Regions from separate parts of the Homo sapiens genome. Here region 1 is linked to region 2. Evidence: fine-mapped expression QTL. Tissue or cell type: whole blood. Region 2 holds a variant in brackets; the other region holds the start of a gene. All regions are shown on one strand. Distances are between the middles of the regions.

What was found. PIP is the estimated chance that this variant, and not a neighbour inherited with it, causes the effect.
Region 1: it holds the start of HAL, and the variant in region 2 is fine-mapped to the expression of HAL in whole blood (TOPMed, PIP above 0.99).

Annotation. Positions count from the first base shown.
Region 1 is chr12:95,994,976-95,997,475 of GRCh38, forward strand. HAL (histidine ammonia-lyase) reads right to left here and starts at 1,369. Exons shown (of 21, transcript NM_002108.4): 1 at 1,103-1,369; 2 at 689-1,016; 3 at 1-18. The coding sequence starts at 935. LOC102723340 (a long non-coding RNA gene) reads left to right here and starts at 1,507. Exons shown (of 4, transcript XR_945237.4): 1 at 1,507-1,655. RefSeq lists an enhancer at 1,582-1,751.
Region 2 is chr12:96,036,169-96,038,928 of GRCh38, forward strand. It overlaps a transcript of LTA4H not described here. Among named protein-coding and RNA genes, the nearest start is that of TRD-GTC2-8, 1.5 kb to the left of the region's middle. RefSeq lists enhancers at 58-107, 128-177. The variant C/G (reference allele first, on the strand shown) is at 1,374.

The DNA.
Region 1 (2,500 bases), 41 kb before region 2:
TGGCATCACCCTCTATAACTAAAACAATGCACGGGAGACTCGTTACAGATCACATTGTACAGCCATGTTCCCCCTGTTAAACCAAGGAACGGCCCATCATTGGCCCATGAATTCTATAGAAATGGCTGCTTTAAAACTGCTTCAGATGGTTTCATGTGGTCTTAGCATCTTTATGTAGGAGGAGAGCAAAAAGCAGAAAGGTAGGTGTCAGGGCAGAGACCAGGGGTTTAGATGAAAGTTCAAGACAGAATTCCACTTCCATCCCCATTCCCAGCTTTATTTTCTTCAAAATCTGAACTGATGCTATGCTGCCGGCCTCCAGTCTGGGGGTGGGGGTGGATTCTTTCGAAAGGCAAAATAACCTCAAAATGATTCAGTCACTGCAAAGGGATTCAGACCTGCAGCCTTGAGTACCAGTCTAGTCTTTGTTACTTACTAGCTGCTGGAGTCTGGGTAAGTTACCTCCTCTCTGATTTCTCCTCCATCAGAGGTGGAGGAGAATCCTACCCATCTCACAGGGTTGTGTGAGGACTTAAGATCCCCAGAGGCGTGGCATGTGCCTGCACAGGGCCAGCCTCGGCAAGCCTGACCTCTGCTCATCATTTTCCCTGAGGTGGGGGTTCAATGCTGCAAAGACTAAGCCAGGCCAAACCGCACCCGTTCGCGGCCCTCTCCTGCAGCCACTCACCCACTTCCACGAACTCGTTGTTCTCTAGGGCCACCTCGAGCCGGTCCTCGTTGTCCAGCAGGCCCAGGCCCTTGCACCGGCGCACAAGGAAGTGCGCGTCATCCACGGAGGTGAAGCCACCATTGTCGGGCTTATTCTTGATATAGCGCCTCACGGCCTCCCGGCCCAGCCAGCCCACAGTGAGCTGCGCGTCCTGGCAGGGCACTGCCAGCCATTCCCCACGTACGTGCACCGTGTATCTGGGCATGGCTCCGCTGCAGCCTGAGGTCCTCAGCTGGTCACAGGAGGGGAGAGCTTTATGCAGGAGTGGCTACCGGGGTGTGGTCAGCTGGAAGGATGAGAATAGACTTTCAAACCACTCCCCCTCCTTCACCTTTACTCATTCATGCATTGGACAAATATTTATTGAGGTACCTGCTGTCCCTTTGGTTTTTGTAGCCGAGCAGGGGCAGGAGCAGGGGATGCAGACGGGTGAGCCTCCTGTCCACTTTCCATCCAGACCTGCTGCCAGAAAGGCCTGGGGTCTCCCACCCTGGGAGGTGCTGTTCTTGTCCCTGATGGCACCTACCTGCTGCTGGCCCCCTTTCTTCAGGGTCCCCAATTTCTCTCTCTTCCCTCGTTTCTGTCTGTGTTCTCTGCCATTAAGGGCAGCTTATAAACACCATGTTCCTGTCTTTATCTGAGATTACTCAACTGTAAAACGTGTTCTGTGGGCCAACTGTGACACTGGGAGTGTGGCAATCGTCACTCATTTGTTTATTCCACAAACATGTATTGAGCAACTACTTCCTGTCACCAGTAAGGTTTTCTGAAGCTTTCTTTCCACCAGGGAAGACTGCAAAGGCCAGAGATCATTTTCACAACTAAAGGTCGTCATCTGGGCAAATGAACCACTCTGACTTGGAGATTAGGGGCTCAGACAGCCGTGGATGAGAGTCCAGCTCTACTACTTATTAGCCTTGATTAGGTGAGTATTACCCTGTATTTCCTTATCAGAAGGCCTAGGGGCTAACTGCCTCCTTCCAGTATGTGCAGGATTTACCTGTGATCAAATCCTGGCTCTGCCATTTGCTAAGTGTATGACTTGTGGGCAAGTGATTTGACTTCTCTGGGCCTCAGTTGCCTCATCTGTAAAATGAAGATAATGGTAATGATGATAGTATATATGTCAAAGGGCTATTGGGAGGATGAAGTCAGTTCATATATGTAAAGCCCTCAACACAACACCTGGCATAGTGGAAATATTATAGAAGTGTCTGTGATTACTAGTATCTGGACACCAATACTCCATGTAACTATAATGCTTTATAAATGTTCTGTATGAATCATAAAGCTATAAAGTTCCATAAATGCTCTTTCATCTTGGCACATGGATATCCCTCACCCAATTAAGCTTCTTCACCACAGATAACTGCTCCCTGCACCCGCCTTATTACCATTGGTATTAAGGAACTCTGGATAGCATGATTACGGCATCAAAGATATGCAGATGCTATTTTGACTAAGCAGCACTTTCATCGTAAGCCAATTTTTAGAGATTTGATTATTGCACTAGAAAAATCCTGAAAAGTCTGTTTCCACTAAATCAGACTTCTGTTGGGAAGAGAGACATGGTTGCTCAAGAAAAACACCTATACTCATACCCAGAGTCCCTCTCATCTGCTGACAGCTTCCCAGGAAGCGTACAAATAGCTACCCTTCCTTGAGCCTTATTGAAACTTGCTCTTCAGATACCCACACCATGACTGCACCCTGGAATTTGTCATGACCTGAATTTGACACACTTAAGAAATCACCCTGGAATCTGTCACG
Region 2 (2,760 bases):
TTATGTATATCCCCAGAACCTGCATCTCTCAAACGGAGAAAGCCAACATTCCCATCTTAGAAACTAATGAATTTCTATAAAAGTTATGCACTGGTCGCAATGGGAGTACAGAGCTGGGACATCTAGCTCAGCTCTGGGGCCTTTGTGGCAGGTGAAGGAGGATTGAAGGATGCCTTGCCTTTAGGGTGGGGCCTCAAAATTAAAACTGGAAAAATTGGAAGAGGCTAGGTTTCGAAGGACCTTAAATAGGTGGCCTTTTAATCCTGGGTGCATTAATGGGGGACCCACTGAAGAGTTTTCAGCAGGCGACTGATAAAGCATGGTCAGACTCATGTTATAAAATGCGGTATCAAAACCATTAGCAGGAGATTTAGGAAACTATTAAAATGGCTCAATCAGAAGATGCTGGGGGCCTGACATAGGTAAGTAGTAAGTTAGGATAGAGAGGAAGGAATGAATAGAAGGAATACTTATATAAGTGGATTCACAGATTGAGAGGAGACGAAGGTGGCCCAGGCTTTCGGCTTCAGTGGCTGGCTAGTCATTAACCAGAGGTAGTAGTCTATATGAAGAGGACAGTATGTTAGGCTGTACTTGCATTGCTATAAATACCTGAGACTGGGAAGAAAAGGGGTTTAATTGGTTTACAGTTACGCAGGCTGTACAGGAAGCATAGCTCCAGTATGCTTCCAGGTAGGCCTCAGGAAGCTTACAATCATGGCAGAAGGTGAAGAAGGGGCAGGCCTCTACATGGCCCGAGCAAGAGCAAGAGATTGCGGGGCCGGTGCCACACACTTAAACAATCAGATCCCACAAGACACTGTGGCGAGGACAGCACCAGGCCATGAGGGCTCTGCCCCCGTGACCCAAACACCTCCCACCAGGCCCTACCTCCAACACTGGAGATTATAATTCAACATGAGATTTGGTAGGGACATATATTCAAACTAAATCAGACAGATTTAAGGGGAAGATGCTAAATTCAATTTTGGACATATGAAATTTGAGAACCTATGGGAGTGGAAGTGGAGATGTCCATGAGTCACTTGGATATTTAAGTCCACAGCTCTGGGGAAGTGCCAGGTAGACATGACCACGTCACATAACGTGGTGGATGAAATTATGACAGTGGGTAAGCTCAACCCAAGAAGAGTGTGTAAAGAGAAGGGTAATGAAAACAGGTTGGAAGCTGAGAGAACACCAGAATTTATTGTTTTAAAAAGGGCTAGAGGAAGAGAAACCCATGAAATAAACCAGAAAGAGCCAACCAACAATGCCAGATGCAGTCCCGAGGACCACCGAAGTAAGAAGTGAAAATTCTCTAGATTTGGCAGTGGGGTGAGAATGGGGAAGGTGGTGATTTTGTTGACTGT[C/G]GTGATTTGGTTGAAGATGGAAGCCAGAGAGTAGTGGATTGAGCAATGAAGAGAAGAGGGAGGTGAAGCATAAACCACTGTCAAGTTGCTTGGCCAATGTGAGAAGGGAAGATAAAGGGGAAGCTAGAGAGGAATGCAGCATTGAGAAAGCTTTTTTTTTTTTTTTTTTTGAGACGGAGTCTCGCTCTGTCGCCTAGGCTGGAGTGCAGTGGCGCAATCTCGGCTCACACAAGCTCCGCCTCCCGGGTTCACACCGTTCTCCTGCCTGAGCCTCCAAGGACTACAGGCGCCCGTCACCAAGACCGACTAATTTTTTGTGTGTGTATTTTTAGCAGAGACGGGGTTTCACCGTGTTAGCCAGGATGGTCTGCATCTCCTGACCTCGTGATCCACCCACCTCGGCCTCCCAAAGTGCTGGGATTACAGGCGTGAGCCACCGCGCCCGGCCGAGAAAGAATTTTTTTAATGTTTGCTTTTTAAGGCAAGAGAAAACTTTAACATGTTTAGATATACAGGTGAAAGGGCTTCTGGAGAAGAGGAAAGTTTCTGCAGAAGGATCGACTCAGAGGCAAAAAGGTAGAGAAGAAGAAAGTAAAGATTTCAGAGGTGTGAGGGATAGTTGATGGGTTTAGCATGCTGGTATGGTTCAATTCTCTATCAAAAGTGACGAAATTTAGCTCCAGCAACAACAACAAAAAACTGCTATATTTCTGGATATCCTTGTGTTGGCCCCTGCAAGCCAAAGGAAAACAAAATAAAACCAAAAAATCCCAAACTATGAAATCTAATACCTTACACATGCATAGGTCCTAATTCATAGGGTGTAAGAATTTGTCATCAACATTTGCATTTTCGGATTTTTTTGGCAAATGTCCTGTTGCCCAGGCTGGATACAGTGGCATGATCATGGGTAACTGCACATTCAACCTCCTGGACTCAAGCGATTCTCGTGCCTCAGCCTCCAAGTAGCTGGGACTACAGGCGCCCGCCACCACGCCTGGCTAATTTTTATATTTTTTTAGAGATGGGGTTTTGTCATGTTGCCCAAGCTGGTCTCAAACTTCTGAGCTCAAGGGATCCACCTGCCTTGGCCTTCCAAAGTGCTGGGATTACAGGTACGAGCCACCACACAGAGCCGCAAACATTTTTTGAGGTCACCAAATCTAGGGTGACAAATACAATAGATAACATAGAATTCATTTAGTCAAATAATACACAGTCAAATCATCTTATTTATCTAGTATGGAGAAAGGATAGTTTGTTTTAATAAGAACGTCATTATCATCATCTTCTATTATTGATTACCAGGAACCCACAGAGTTTATGCCACTTGTGTTTAAATAAAAATATCCACACACAACCACAAATAAATTCCTCCATTAATATA